Linked DNA regions of Homo sapiens: region 2 is linked to region 1. The links come from fine-mapping of genetic effects on gene expression. A gene starts in region 1. The other region holds a variant in brackets. All regions are shown on one strand. Distances are between the middles of the regions. Region 1 holds the start of ANO3 (anoctamin 3). Region 2 holds the start of MUC15 (mucin 15, cell surface associated).

Region 1 (8,346 bases):
GTTTTGCAGCAACAGATTCAGCAACAAAAGAGGACTGAATAATGCTATTATTAAGCACAGTCCCTGGCATACACGCAGCAAAAGCATGGTACTTAAGAGTGGACAGTAAATAAATACCATTTCTTGCAAAAACATTTTAGATTATAAAGTTAATTACAAACCTAAAAATTTCTATGGGAATTTTTTGGAAGTTTTCCTGAGGGATGGACATATGAATTGAGGAGAGTTTGTGATAGTTAACTCCAGACTATTTTAAAAAACCATCCATAGATGGTCTGGAGTCCACTGTTTTCCTTAAGATGAATCCCAAAGTAATAAAGCTGCGTGATGCAAAAGAAAAAAAAAGGCAAGAAATTATAAGGGAACTGCTAAGAGTCCAATATACTACTAAAGAGCCAACCAAAGGTGAATGAGCCTAGATGAATTTTAGTAAGGAAAATCACTAAATTTTTTGAGCCCCAACTGTGTGTCAGACAAACTGCTAAACACCTTATAACTCTGCAAGATAGACATAATTATCTTCATTTCACATAAGCAGTTACTGTGGCTTAGTGATATTAAATGACATAACCTGTAAGTAGAATATATTGGATTAATATCCAGGGCTCAAAATAAAGACCAGAGATTAAATTAATAAATTAGGGCTTACATACAGTATTTCATTTCCCAGATAACCAGTCTGGCATCTATACTTATCTATACTATACTTATACTTACCTATCAAAACCAATTTTGATCGGGGATTGGTTAATACATAGTTCTCATATATAAAGGAGAATCCCTATGCCTTGTGTAGAGTTTAAATATTGAGTGTGTCTGTTTTTCAATTAAGGGTGGAAACTTTAAAAATAATATAACAAGGGTGATTTCTAGTTATATCAGGCTATTTCTAGATATTTTCAAGTTGAAATCAAAATTTTTAAAAGAGACATTGAGCTCACTTGAATAAAACAAAAGTAAATTCCATCAACTGGATTTTTCAGCTAAATTAATTCGTAAAAGTAAACTAAAAGCAAGGCTCTCCTCTTTATCTGGTCACAGAAGAAATCATCTCTGCCTTCATATGCAAACCGTCCCTCCCATTAAACAGAGGAAGAGAGACAGAAAAGGCCAAAGGGATTAGGAATGTATTCTGTTCATGTTATGTATGAAGCAAAGTCCAAAGAAATTAACCACTTTGTTGAAGATTTCTCAGCTAGTAACAAACGCAAGCTTAGAACCTAGGAGTACAGAGTTCCACTACAGAATTTTCTCCATTTTAATGTGCAATTTTCAGGTTAATTTTATGGTGAAAAGCACATCTGAATGTTTTGTTGTTGTTGTTGCATACCTCCTAGGACAGATCACATCTAGAGAATTATTTTGCTTCTTCCTATTTGAAGAATAAAAATAGCTAATCCTCAATTTGGTCTGTTTTTTTCCTAATGCCCATGCAGGATTAAGAAGCCATTAACCAGAACCACTTAGCTAAAATGAATCTTGCTTCCTTCCTACCGGAGTACTCCTCCTCTAGATTTGTATCCTTTTGCTGAAGTTGCCTTTTGTGCCAAAGAGTAAAGGAAGACTTGAAATTAAATGGCTCATAATGCATCATAAAGGAAACAATGTGAAATGCCAGCAATTGCACAATTTCTTATCACTCTCTTTGAGCAATGACGGTCGGACCTACAGTTGTCAATTATTTCCTTCTTAAAAACACAACATGTATCCATACATAATACATTGTTGTGGGGGCCATTTGAAGCTTCCAGATCCCAGAAATGAGTCACCCATAGCCAATGCATCAGTGGAGGTATTTATTCTGTGAGGCTGTTGCAAAGTTCCTATCATCTTTGTCTTCATTCTGAAAGTTTATGTATGTTTAAAACCATGATTAAAGAGAACACAACTTCTTGAAGCAGTTTAACTTTATTTGAAATGTTTAGAGTTGAAGTAGAAGTGCATACTAGGTGAAATTTTTGTCTACCCCTACAGTCTCACACATCACTCCCAATTTCAACATATATTTGAAACATCCTAGAGAACTTGGGCTTGAACTGAGTACAGAATTATGGAACTGGAAACTCAGTCAGTCCCATATTCTGTCTTACGCAGGAATCCCTTCGAAATTGTTTCTTGTGTGTTAATCTAGTTTTTGTTAAAAACAAACAAAAAAGTCAAGGGCCGGGTACAGTGGCTCACACCTGTAATCCCAGCACTTTGGGAGGCTAAGGCGGGCGGATCACGAGGTCAGGAGATGGAGGCCATCCTGGCTAATACGGTGAAACCCCGTCTCTACTAAAAACACAAAAAAATTAGCTGGGCTTGGTGGCGGGCGCCTGTAGTCCCAGCTACTCAGGAGGCTGAGGCAGGATAATGGCATGAACCTGGGATGCAGAGCTTGCAGTGAGCCGAGATCGCGCCACTGCACTCCAGCCTGGGCAACAGAGCGAGACTCCACCTCAAAAAAAAAAAAAAAGTCAAAGAGCTACATAAAAACAACTGTTGATGAAAGAAATACAAATAATATCTGGAGGGTGGGGATGAGAATATTTAAGTAAATATTTACTTTGAATGAACAAATTCAGCATTCCAGAATTCACACATCTAAGGCACTCTATGGTTAACTGTATCATAATTACCATTATTAATTCAGCAAAGTGGCAATTGTGTTAATTAATGCTTCTGGATAATAAAACTCCAAAAACTGTGAATGTGCCTCAAAATAAAAATGCTCTGTAAAAAGCCTTTTAAACCAAATAAGAAACAAAGATCAAAGAGTGAGGATAACTTGAACATACAGATTCTTGTCACTATGCCCAGCAAGAAACTTGAGGGAGAAACTAAAAGACATAATACGAAGCCCCTAGAAGAGAAACCTAACCTCAAGAACTTGAAACCCAGAATCAAGCATGGGACATGGGCAAACAATAAATTTTCCCAAGGAAGTGACAGAGCCCCTTTAACTGCAACAGGCCAACTCTGGAACTCCCCCAAGAATTCATTTATCTTATGATTGTGTAAATGCGTCTCAAGGAGTAGACACACTTTTGTGAAGATTACTCAACATTTGAACCACAGAAGACGGCAGATATTGTTGAACATTTCTGTCCTCACCCCTCAGAGCTCTACTGAGCTATTCGGACAATCCCTACTAAGCGGGTTTACTGCAGTGCATTGAAACAGTCTTCACAGAGATATACATTAAGTCAAGTCCTGAAATGACGAATTCCGATACTCCCAGGCACTGTGCGGAGGCTCAGAAAATCACTCATCTAGGATGCAGAGTGAAGAGGAATTTAATTTTTTTTTTTTTTTTAACTTCACAGAGTTCCCCACCTCTGTGTCGCATAAGCCTGCAAAGGATGCTCCTACACAACTGCAAGGGCATGCAGGGGGGAAGTGACGCCCGCAGGGAGAGGGGAGCAAGATTCCAACTGACCTTTTTGCTGTTTAAAGGACTGAATGGAGCCTGAATGGTGGACCATTTTCACTCTGCGCGTCCCAGCCGGCTTAGGGAGCTGCCCGAGAGGGAGGCGGAGGAACAGTAGCCAGACTCTAGACGCTCCAAGGTCCGGAGCCTCAGCGAGCGCACTGCAATCCGACACCTGCTGTAGCCGGCACTTCGCTCTCCAGGCTACGCGCCCGCCGGTGTCGTTGTCATGGGAACGCGGGAGGGCGGTCTAGCGTCCGGCTCCCCTTAGCGGCTACTCTGGGAACAACCCCGCATCCCCCGCGCGTCCAGTGCCACAGTGAGGGGTGGGCGTTGAGCGGGGTTGGCTGGGAGTGGGAGCAGAAGACTTTACTGGAGGAGGAGATATAAATCGGAGCAAACCTCTAGAGCTGATACTGATGCCCTCTTTGCCAAGCTTTGAGGCTGGTTATTTATTTCCTAAAAGTTGGTAGGTAAACCCTGGGACTTTTAAGGAAGGGCAAAGTTGGTCTGTGCTCTGAGAGGGTATGCAGTGGCAGATGCAGAGACGTTTCTGTTTTTCTTTCTTAAATTTAAGTAGAGGGGGCAGAAAGCCACCCCAGCTTAGTTAGCCAGTAGCATGTTTTATTAGGTAAGCTGTGTTCTATGTCTAGCACTTTTCACTTGAGTTTTCCTCTTCTTCTTCTGCCATTCAGGCCTTGAATCATTTATGATGATGATGACTGAGGACCATTTATAACCTACTTAGTCACAGGGGCTGAAAAAACACTACCCACGATGCTCGATTTAATCTTCATAAAAGCCCTGTAATGTAGGTAAACTATGATTCTAATATTATAAAAAGAAACTTAAGATCAGAGCAACAAAGATTTCTCAAGACCACATAAATCAACACCTTATTTGAAAGAGAAGGCACCCGATACCCAAAGAAGTGAAGTAACTCTTTTTGTTTAGTTTGAGAAGTTTTATTTTATTATTTATTTATATCTTCACCATGTATTTTAAGTTCGTGGTACATGTGCAGGATGCGCAGGTTTGTTACATAGGTAAACGTATGCCATGGTGGTTTGCTGCACAGATCACCCCATCACCCGGGTATTGAGCCCAGCAGCCATTAGCTATTGTTCCTAATGCTCTCCCTCCCCCTCCAACAGGCCCCAGTGTGTGTTGTTCCCCCATTGTGTCCGTGTGTTCTCATCATTCAGCTCCCACTTTGAAGTAACTTTTGAAAGACCAAACTGCAGTGGCCAAAATAGGACCAGAAGCTAGCTGAACACATTTTTCAGTAGGATCTCCTTTCCTCCATCTATCTCTGCTCCCTGATTCAAAGCCCTAAGTTCTTCCTGGAAGATGTAAGATGTTATTGAACAGACACATCGTGAGAGTCCGTTGCTTCCTCAGTTTTGAAGTTTTATGGAATCAACTCAGAATCAGGTGAATAATCCAAATAAAAGCAGATAAAAAATATGCAGAAATTTCCAAACTTTCGATACCTCAAAAATATTGAGTTATTATTGTATGCTGTTTGATTCATCTGTGGTGCATGATACAAAAGAATGAGGGGAATATAGCTTTGAACAAACAGATGCTCCAATTATTTATGGATGCATAACAAACTACCCTGAAACTAAGCTGTAAACTAAAATTTATTATTATTACTTATGGATTTTGCAGGTGGGCTAGATTCAGACAGGCAGTTATCTCTCAGAGTCTCTCTTGATTGTTCAGTAACTGGTCTTAAAGTCATCTGAAGCAAAAAGCGAAATTGGATTCTACTCTCAGTGGGAGGAAGAGCAAACAATGTGCTACCTTCTTTAATGTATCATAATGGTCTTTCCAGAAAGAAATGCTGAGCATTCAATAAGAGCTCAGTATGCAGGCATTGAAGAAATACTTGGTTACAGACAATGAACTCAGTGTGAGTTCACCTCCAAATGAAGATCTAAAACACAGTTCAGAGACTGTCTCCGTAAGGGCTTTTAATACAGATATTGTATAGATGAGGGCATTGAAACCGAGAAGAATAAATGACTTGCTCGAGGATGTTTTTTTTAAATTTTGTTCATCCAGAGTTAAAATTCTGATAGAACTCAGCTTACAGATCATTCTGATGTGAACCAACTCATTGATTCTAATGCAACCCAATTCTCCTACGTGAGGATTAGACAATGAATTTAAGAATGGCAGAAAACTAACACCCAATACTTACTAGTCAGTTATGACCCCTGTAGATCTCATTTAAATGTTTAAAACCCCCTTTTAAATCACCGGTTTTAGAATCAGAAATATTTTTGAAATTTAAACTTTAATTCAATCCCTGGTCAGCAGGACTAGTTAAAAGAATTAAAGTCCCCTCGCCGGGCGGTGGCGGGCGCCTGTAGTCCCAGCTACTCAGGAGGCTGAGGCAGGAGAATGGCTTGAACCCGGGAGGCGGAGCTTGCGGTGAGCCTAGATCGCACCACCGCACTCCAGCCTGGGAAACAGAGCGAGACTCCGTCTCAAAAAAAAAAAAAAAAAATTTAAGTCCCTCTATTCCACATTTCTAGGCACAGGTATCACCTTTACCTTCCTAAGATCTTTTTCTGTTGATCCCTGATTTTCTCCAACCTACTCCCTGATCCAAAACCCAGCAGGAGGCAAATATGTATCTGCCAGAACTAGAAATGAGTTGAGATTTTGAACCTCATTGGATTTTTTTCCAAGGAAAGAATGTTTGTTATTATTTCTAACACCCTTGCACCCTAACCTCCTTGGTGCAGCTATGATTAAACTATCTTGTCATAAAGTTAATTACTTTTCTTAAAATTAGAAACATTTTAGGTTGGACTGCCAGATTGACTAGCAGGGGATTCAAAGAACATCTTTGCTTGTTTTAAAATCAGTCTTTTAGGGGAGGTTGCTAGAGGAACAGCTTTGTGAGGGGCCGAGGAAATTTGAAGCACCATCTGCTTTATAGAAAGGCAGTGCAAAGAGAAAAAGATTCCTCTCTCTCTCTCTCTCTCTGTGTGTGTGTGTGTGTGTGTGTGTGTGTGTGTAAAGAAAGAAAGTACGTTTTGGAAGTGTAGAAAGAAGAGTTTGAGCAAAAGCCCTCTTTTTTAACTCAAAATAAAAATTCTGTGTTGGGGTAAAAGGAAGCATTTTGATGGACTGACATTTCCATTGTGGACAGTTTAAGAATGGATAGCAAGTAGCCTCATTAAGGAAAGCTAAGCTAACTATGAACTATGTTGGGTTGCTTTTTCCTACTATTTTTAGCTTCAAACATTTTTCTCCAAATTTTAATGACATGCAAAATGTGTATTTTATATAATGTTTAGTGAGGGGGCATGATTAATGTATAATACACAGTACAGTCTTGACTCTGTTTTCCAAAGTAGAAAAAAAAAGCCTAGAAATAAACATGCGAAAATGTCTGGAGTAATCATGCTTGCAAGTTGAGTAAAGGGTAATATTTTTTATACTTTCATATATTTTTATCATTTTCATACTTTATCAATGATATGTGTTGATTTTATCCTTATTACATGCATAGATCTTCAACCCCCCTACCCATATACCTGTCTTGCTACAACTTCAATTTTTCTCTTTTTTCTCTTTGGACCTAGGGTTTCGTTCCCCTTCATGTTTCTGCTGCTCTTGCTCCCCACAACTCACAACCTGTCTCCTGTCCTCCTTAAGTAATTAACTTTGCAGCCCCCCTGCTAACATTTGCTCCCCAGAGAGGTAAGAAACTCTGATGTTTACATCACTGGGAGACTTTTTATTCCTTTGAATTTCGAAATAGGTCCCTCAGCTCAGCCAGTTGTGAGTTTCTCTGTATTGTGCTCTGTCAAAGGGACTGAGAGAGTCCTGTTTCTGCCTCTTTGGGTCATGAATCACTGCCTTAATTAAAATTGGAATTGTGAATGATACTTCTCATTGCCTAAATGGTAACAGAAATGGAAAAGCAGTACTTTCCTGCTTCTAGTTTCTCTCCGTATATTAAAGACAAAAACCAGCTCTGTAAAAAAGTCATATACTATCATAAAAGGAAAAATGGAGTGAAATTTAACAATTTTCTCCCTAAAAGCCTATGGTTTCTGGCCACATGTGACAGTATAACAGCAGAATTAAGTAGATTCATCCTGATGATATCCAGGCTATATGCTCCGAGTAGCATTCAGAAGTAGTACTACTGATGGGTGTGTCTAAGATAAAGTCATGGAGGAAAATCAGCAGCCTCAACCTTCTCTGAGTCCAGCCTTAAGAAGTCTTACAAAACAGAATTTTAAAAAAATTAATTCTCAAGTGCTTGGAGCACATGGCATTTTGAAGAGACAGGAACACAAAATGATTTGTGTAAGAAGACAGCATCAAGAGAAGGGAGATGTGTGGGACAAAGGAGGTGATGATGGGTTAAACAGCAGTTCATATCTTAGAACCCTGCTGAAAATCTGAATAATTATTTCAAGTTGCCTATAGGATTAAATCCATGTTGTTTAATCTGTCATCAGCTACCTTGTCCCATACATCCTGTGGATATGTTTGTTGCCTTGATTGTAGTGATTGCATGACAGGTGTTTGCATATGTTCAAACTCATCGTACATTAAGTATGTGCAGTTCTTTGTATATCAATCATACTTCAATAATGTTATTAAAAATAGACAATTTAATTTATTTAAACAAAAATCATCAAGTCCATGTTCACTGCTTTACCATTCAAGGGGCTCCATATTTTCTTGCAGCACTTTCCAATATTGTTTCAAAGACCCTTTTACAAACTCTTTTAATCCTATATTGCTTTCTTCCTTATTGGTCTGCTTTTGCTGCTGCTGCTGCTGTTTTCTCCACTGGGAATGATTGTCCTAAAACTCCTTCAGGGAGCAATGACATTTCTTGTATGAAGATATATTTTATCCACATCTACATCTACTGAGTACAAAGCCAGTTAGAT
Region 2 (8,346 bases), 240 kb before region 1:
GTTGACAATTTTTCTGTCTACATGACTACCACCAAAACCATATCTACCCACTTATCTATCCTTGTGTCCATATCCTCTACATTCTTACATGTTAGAAGATTTCTGCATCTCTAGTTAAGGCCAACTCTTCTTGTGAAATGGCTCCTATCACTAACCACCTACCAAAGAAAACTGCTCACAATCATATAAATGTGGCCAAGGAATGTCCTTAAGTGAAAAAAAAGTCAAGTTTCAGATCTGAATGGGCCAACGTTGAGAAGAATATTCTAAAAAGAAGAAAAAGTAAACTTACAGCTGTCTCATGAATAGTATATTCACTTTTTGTTATTATTGTTGACAAATATATTAATATTTATTCAATCTTTTATCAATTCACTCATTTAATCTTTCACTTATAAGTTTATCCAGCATTTACTCTGTGCAAGGCATTAGTCTAACCCTGTGGATAAAGCAATGCAGAAAACAGACAAAAACGTAAGCTGTCACGAGCTGACTTTTCTAGTATGGGACTAGATAAGAAATACATACATAAATAAGATATACAGTATGTTAGATGGCAATAAGTGCTATGAAGAAAATGCAGCAGGAGGAGTGAGAATAGGTCAGGAAAAAAGGGTTTCAGTTTTACAAAGTGTGATCAGAGAAAGCCTCTCTGGCAGGGAAAAATTCAGGTAAAAATAAAGAAGAGTTTACTCATTCATTTTTCATGAAATTAATATTCATTGAGTAACTACTATGTGCTGAGAGATGCAAATTCAAAATAATCTAATATGTGCTTGTACACTTAGTTAGATTCCTCTCAACATTTATTCATGCTGACACTGAAGCCTCAATTTTTATCATCTCCAAAAAAATTATTATATTTATAATTAATTAAGTCTAATTGAGTTTGACTACTAAGTGTCCAGTAACACACAATTATTTTATCTATTTTAACTTGACTCCACACACAACTAAGAAGTAGTGTCACTTTCTTTATTGTACAAATGAGAAAATATTCTTGGAAACGTGATGGCAATTATCCAAGGTTATGAAACCATTAAGTGGCAAAACCAGGATTCAAAACAAAGAAACTGTGACGTGGTAGCCTGAGCTTGTTCTACTCAGCACACTGCTTCCTTGGTGATTATAAATCTGGAGAATCTAGCCAGAGACAGAGCCCCAGAGTGCTAACACTGAATAAAGATTTCATGGGGCCACCTGAGCGACAAAGTCTTTCTGCTAACATGTGCGGACTATGATCACGTCAGCAAAAGTATCATTCTGAAGAAAGTATTGTTTATTTTTTAAATGTTTCCATCATCTTGTAACAACGCTATCCTCTACCTTTTTTGTTTTTGTTTGGCTAGAACTGGAAGGGAAGATAAAAAGATATAGTGGACACTATGTGAGACCCTAAATAATACAGAAAAATACCCAAGAAAATATTTTAAACCTATGAACAGCTTCAAGTACTATTAGCCATCACATAGAAATTATTGAAAATGTCTGATTTACTACTCTGAATTTAATAGCTGCACAATGTCAGTGGTTTTGAAAATGATTGTGTAATCGCTAAAATAATTTTGTGAAATTATTTATCTCCTTGTACAAAATTTCTTTCCATTATATATTTAAATAGTCGTAAAGGTTATGATTTCCAGTGCTTTATAAAAATGGACATTTTAAAATAAATTTATACTAGTATTTTATACCTAATTGTGTCTCTTTAAAAATATACCTTTAAAAAGCACTAATCTGTTGCAAAATTTAAATTGTTCATTTTATCTTTAAATCTATTTCCATCCAATTTCTACTTCAAAATATTTCTAATATATATTTATGTTTGAAAGTGTTGATTATCTTGCATAGTACTCTAAAATAATTTTAAAAATGAGATAGCAATTGTTTAAATTTTTAAAATTTCTTGTGACCATTAGGCTCTTACCTTAAAAAACAATTAGAATTGAGTAATCATCAGAAGTAATAAAACAATATAATCAATTTTAAATTTTAATGAATATTAAATGCAAAATCTAAGACTGTTATATTCTTAAGGATATCAATAGGGTTTGTGTTTGTTTTTCAATTCATATTTTATATTGTTACAATATGGTATTTTCAATTATATATTTTATATTTCAAAATGTTTACTAAGAAAACAGGTTCACATAAATATATAGATAGAAATGCAACAGGTTTTGCTATAGTCTTATCATTCAATTCTTTTAACTATGGTCGAATTAAATGCCCCAAATCACATAAAGATCTATCCTTTAAAGTTATTTTTAGTTGATTGACCAGGTTTACAACTTTCTTTAGCTCACCATTTATGTATGTATGCATGCAAGTATGTATACTTGCATATATGTATATGCAATATCATAACCTCTGCTTAACCAAGGGCATTGTCCTAGAATTTCCTTAACCCCAAAATGGAATATTTGACCTTTCCAAAAAGTTATAGTTAAGTGAAGAAGATCTTATTATAGCACCATATTACTTACCAGAGAAAGATAAACTTGAATAATAAACAACCATTAGCATTTATGAGAATAATCCCTCTATTTCTATCCTAATAGAATATTGAAATAAATTAAATGTTATCCCCAAATACATTTCCCAGCCGTTAAATTCTATTTTATTTATAAAGAATATCATTAAAATACTCTCAAATAATAGATTCATAATGTAATTTATTTTACTATTATTCAAATATTTCTTATTTGCTTAAAGTACCTATGTCCCTATGGGGAAACAAACATGAATTCCACTTGTAGCCTGTATCAGACTAAATATGCTATCAGTGAATCTGATCAATGCAAATTCCCTACATGTGACATCAGCATCAAGATTTGATGCTATAGGATTTGTACAAAAAGATACTCTTTTGGATTCAAAACAATGTTTTCAATTAGTTTGAAGTGTGGTCCCAAGCTATGTCTGCTTCTGTATTCAGATCCATTAGTGATATTCATGTGTCTTCGTGTTCTGGAAACTCCACTTGTGAGTGGTTCTATCATTGCAGACTAGGAAGAGGTTTTTCTTCCTCCCAGTATGTATTGTGAAACGTAATTAATGAGTGTAAAGCAATTGGTGAGTGCCAGATGAAAGGCACCATAGTGGGTAAGTACCAAAAAAAATTATACAAGCACTGCACAGTGTGTCATCTCAGCTGGGTTTGCTGATGAAATTGCAGGTAATTATCTCTCATTGTGGAGTTCCTCTGGAGAAAGGAGGTCTAAAGTGGGATTGGTCTTACCTAGAACCTAGGACTGTATCTCAGTGAAACTTGTTTGTTTGGCTAGAAATTACTTTTTAACTCCAACTCCATGAGTAAACAAAGGTTTCTGATAACAACTAAGTGAGCTAAGTAACAACTGAGGCATTAAATTTACGTACAGTTTACATTTTATAAGTTTATTTCCAGATGTGCTCAAGACAGTGAGGGTAGGTAAGGTTTATCTCTAGGGTGAGGTCTAATCAATTGATTATGATTGTAAGGAGGGCAATGATGAATAGGATTCTGGGCCCACAGAAAGGGTCTTCAGGAAAAAGCAACATGAGAAATTAGCGGGACTTTTATGGCAGTGAAAACGGAGAGCTATAGCAAAAGTGCATTGCAATGTTTATGCCTGGTATAAGCCATAATTACTATGGTTAAGGCAGAAGGGGATAATGATATTCCCACACATATTGCAGAAAAGGCCTAGGGAAAAGGTGCACCCAGTCCTGCCCAATCATGTTCAGTTCTCTAACTACAAACAGAAAATATATTTAGTTGGATTTTTACCTAAAAAGTGGCTAATCTGAAAATAAGCCATTGAATTCTATTAAGCCACTGTTCAGTAACTAACTGTTTGATTAAATTTAACCTGCTTTTCTTCGTACCACAGTAGAGACAGCTTAAATATCTTTTGAGACAATATTTTTTCGGGGTTGGTTTAATTTCTAATCAAACTCTGAAGGGGCCTTTGGGCTTCAGAAAATTTAAAACTATAGAATTACCTTGTTCTTTCCTCGGGCCAATTAACTGGGCAGATTCTTTGCATTCCATTTGAAGCTTACTAGCTCCTGCATTTTAGC[T/G]AAAGTTTCGTTTCTCGCTCAGCAGTTGAAAACCTATCTCCTTGTGCAGCAGAAACCAAGTATGAACCTCAGGCATATTGAGCTGAACGGCCCTTGGCGCCATCCCCAAACGCTGATGTGCGGAAGATCCCAGTTTCACTCTTCTCCCTTTCATAAGCTCTGAAAGGAAGTGTAGGAAGTATGCCAAGTTGTTATTCAACTCTAGTATTTAATCAAGCATTACCTGGGCACTTCTGAAATTCTCCAGCTTCTAAAGTGAGAGTAAACCAGAGAGAACACAGGGTGGAAACTACTTAATCGAGAAGGCTCCTAGGATAAGTGAGGATCACATGGCCATTCTCAGGCCCCAGTTCCTCTCCAAACTCCTGAAAGTCAGCAAGAAACCGAATCTCAGTCATGATGATTATTTTTCATGTAACACCTCACAGCGTTCTCAGGGATCCCAATATATGCTACTAATTCACTTTGTGTTAAGTAGGAGTTTCTTAAAAAAACAATTTCAGTGGACCTCAGAATAGACGCCTCACTACTGACCCCACTACATTTTCTCTACTTAGGCTTTAAGTACACAAATAGGGCAATCTACTAGAGTACAGAAAAATTGTTTATGATTTCAGAGAATGTGCGGCTGGCATAGAGCAACAAGTGCAGGGCATGACTTGTTTGGATTCCTCACCTGCAAGGAGCAGGGGGCCCAGCACATGTCAGAAATTCCTGCTATACCAGATGACTTTGCCAAAATCTTTGTCCTTTTTTTCACTTAGGGTGAAAAAAAAAATTGATGACCCGTGTTTTGCTACCACTGACGAGAGTAATACCTTGTCCCAAAGCTAAAACGATCAACCTATGAAAACTGGAGGGTTGGGCTTTTGTTGTTGTTGTTAAAGGCCTGAATGAGGTGATATCTTAATGCTTACAGCTGAGAAGCAGGTCAGTCAGGTTCCTGGGCGCTCTGTTACACAAGCAAGATACAGCCAGCCCCACCTAATTTTGTTTCCCTGGCACCCTCCTGCTCAGTGCGACATTGTCACACTTAACCCATCTGTTTTCTCTAATGCACGACAGATTCCTTTCAGACAGGACAACTGTGATATTTCAGTTCCTGATTGTAAATACCTCCTAAGCCTGAAGGTAAGTGTGCGTTGGGTCACTTAGGTCTCTCGCTTTCTCTCTTTCACTCTCTACTCTCTCTCTTCCTTGATTATTTACCAAAGAGAATCGCAGTGGTCTCAACTTTGACAGAACAGCCTGGCAAGTAGCTACGGCAATCCTTGCAGAGACAAGTAGTTGTTTTATTAAGTAATGACCTTCCAAATGAGTATTTGCACTCCTAAATGAGTTAGCTTTAAAAATTACTGCCAAATTTGCTAGATTACAGAACCAGCAGAAGAGTTAAATAAAAGCCTTATTTAAAACATACGTGACTATGAAATAGAATTTTCTTAAGTCAGATCTTAGTAAAGGTTTCAAAATGTTTAAAGTGGAAGTGGCAGCATGAATATAAATTGAATCTTAGATTTAAATTATGCATTTGTGCTGAAAGGTTTTTGCTTTAAGTATTAGAGGTTTTTGCTTTAAGTATTAGAATAGTTTTGGAAAAAATCTTCTAATAAAATAGATTAGAAGCTTCTATAAATCTTTTTCAAAGATTTTCTTAATTAAAAAGTTGGGAAACTGTTGTACAGTACATATAATTATTTAGCATGATATGTGTACATGTCTAACTTTCACTGGAAATCTAAAAGGTTACATCAGTTACTACAGAAAACATCCTATGAAATGAAAATGTGGTAAAATTTCTTAAAATTATTTTCATTTTGTGGCTATATAAGCCTCTTTTTTTATTAAAAGGATGCTGATTTCCATTTATCTACTTTCTATTTAGTCTGTAGAGGCTGCTCCTATAGACATTACAGTATGATACAGAAGGCTGGAAACCCTATGCTTGAAAATTTTGATCTAGAACTTTCCTTTCGGAGAAACTTTCTTTCTTTCTAAGCTTGACACTCATCACTAATTAGTTAAGTACTGAATTTTATGACTGAAAACTCCCAAGGTAGCAGGTCATATGACAAACTCTACATTTTTCCTGTAGTTACATAGCCTAAGTCTTTTAGCCAGAATAATGTTCTCAAACTTCTGAAATTTGTTTTTTTCTTGAAAGAAAGCCAGTCTTTTCTTTTTTATTTTTTCTTTCTTTTTACATCACATAAAAGTAAAATGAGAGGCCTAAGTTTCTCAGTCACAATCCTTTTTCTAGTTGGTTACGCTTCCAAAACCCTCTCATAAAAGAGGCATTTTTAGAAGGATGTCTTATGTCCTCATTTATTGTTGCTCTTGAATTTAGGAAACTAAAAATACTGTCCAACATTGGAAAAAGTCACTCAGAGTAACACTCAAGTTCTTCCTGAGATGTTAGCTACATAGCAGACAGAGTTTTCTTTGAGAGACAAACAAAACCCATCTGTCTTAATTTGTAGCCTAACATCTGTGAGAAGAAATGATCAAACACAACTTGGAGAAAAGGCAGCCCAATGTATAGTCGTCAGTGATTTTACTATAGAAACATGTTTTTATATTATGCCTGCAGTATACCTGAACTGATGATTCTATTTAGAATTTCTGATTTTGATTCTGTTTAGAATGAGTAGCATTTCTTTGCCCTTATATGGGTTAATTACCTGACATAAACCAGGACATCTCCTTATTTCCAAAGCTTGGTATAAAATAAGTATGACCCACGATTTCAACAGAGAGCCTGGACAGAATAATGACTTTATGCATTTAAAAGGAAGCAAAAATATGGACAGTGAATGTGGGTTTGCTTCCCTTACTGGCCAGAGGTGTTTTTTGTTTTTGTTTTTTCTCATCACTTTCTGCAGCCCTCCATACAAAAGTAATAATGTGAAACCACTTTCCAGTGCCAGTAACAAAGAAGGCGAAAGTCGTGTTCATTCTCCCTCTGTAGAGGAGTTGTTCTAAAACAGTGACACTATGAAAATATATTTTAAAACTAGTTAAATTTTAAAACAAAAAAAATGTTAATATATACAGGAAAGTTTAGAATCTGTATTTAAGGTATCACAAAGGAACTGGAAATCCTCCTTTCTTTCTCTGTTCACTTTATAGTAATTCTACCTTTAGAAGGTTTTCGAGTTTGTGATGATCCTAAACCTCTATTTTATAACTTCAAAATTTCTCTTAGGAGCTACCACCCAGATGCAAAAAGAGGCAAAGATCAGGAGGTGAAATCATTACTGGGTTCTCCTGATTTCTCTCCCTCTGCAATTCTACTTTTCTTTCATCCCACCTTCTGTCTGCCCCCACAGTGCACCTGGCTGACAGATGAACTTGGGTGCACTCAGGGATACCATCCATAATCCATCATCATTTCAGCTTTATAAAGCAAGTATATAACATAGAGTTAGATATTTGAACTCCAGAGATGGAGAGAGGCTAAAAGGAAAGCACACACGAAAGTAAAACATATATAGATTTCATTTGTTGCCCTCTGGAGTTGCTGTCCCACCTCCATTAGGCTTCTGTCACTTGCAATGTGCTTTGTTCAGTTGGCATGAGGTCAAACTTCGGCCAAATCTCCTGGACCTTACTCCAGCAAAATTTCATGGTGGGGTTCTGAATAACGGATGACTTCAATTCCTGGCTGCTTCTACGACTTTAAGATGAAAGGAACCTGAGTAAGTGGCGTAACCTGGCTCTCCTAGAAGCCAGGCAGCAGAGGCAAACTTGTCCCTACTGCAATGTCAGGACAATCCGTCTTCACAAAAGCCTTATCTGTAGTGTATAAATTTCTGAATAAACCATAAATATTTAATAGTATTCACAACATACTGAACTACCCCTCTCTTCCATTTCTCTCCTTTTCCTGGGAGATAAATTATAGGCAGTAACAGAGTGCTTCGCACGTTTGGGGGTGTTGATACCCTAGGTTTTCAAGTTACAATCAAAAGCTGGGTAAAGGAATGAGAGATCCCCTTGGTGGTTCAATGTCACAGGCAAGGTGAAACAGGAACAACAGAATTCACTTTATTGACTCTTGATGTGTAGATTTTCATTACAGGCAGGTAATGAAAGCTCAATGCCATGTCTCTCACATAATATTATAAGAAAAATAGAAGAACAGCTAAGGACATTTTTCCCCCCACTGGTGACCACTTTATTAGGAAGAGAAAAATAGCAAAACAACTAGATATAGAGAAAATAAATCGAATGCCATAATAATGCTGAAAATAGTGGCTAAGTACAATTGACAAATTAGAT

Evidence for each region.
Region 2: its variant is fine-mapped to the expression of ANO3 in thyroid (GTEx, PIP 0.94).

Annotation. Positions count from the first base shown.
Region 1 is chr11:26,327,397-26,335,742 of GRCh38, reverse strand. ANO3 (anoctamin 3) reads right to left here and starts at 3,613. Exons shown (of 27, transcript NM_031418.4): 1 at 3,422-3,613. The coding sequence starts at 3,467. It overlaps LOC105376598 (a long non-coding RNA gene), which reads left to right and starts at 3,769. Exons shown (of 3, transcript XR_931138.3): 1 at 3,769-3,881; 2 at 4,108-4,223; 3 at 7,018-7,490.
Region 2 is chr11:26,568,891-26,577,236 of GRCh38, reverse strand. The region is part of intron 14 of ANO3 (anoctamin 3); the gene reads right to left. It overlaps MUC15 (mucin 15, cell surface associated), which reads left to right and starts at 4,974. Exons shown (of 5, transcript NM_001135091.2): 1 at 4,974-5,196. The variant T/G (reference allele first, on the strand shown) is at 4,066.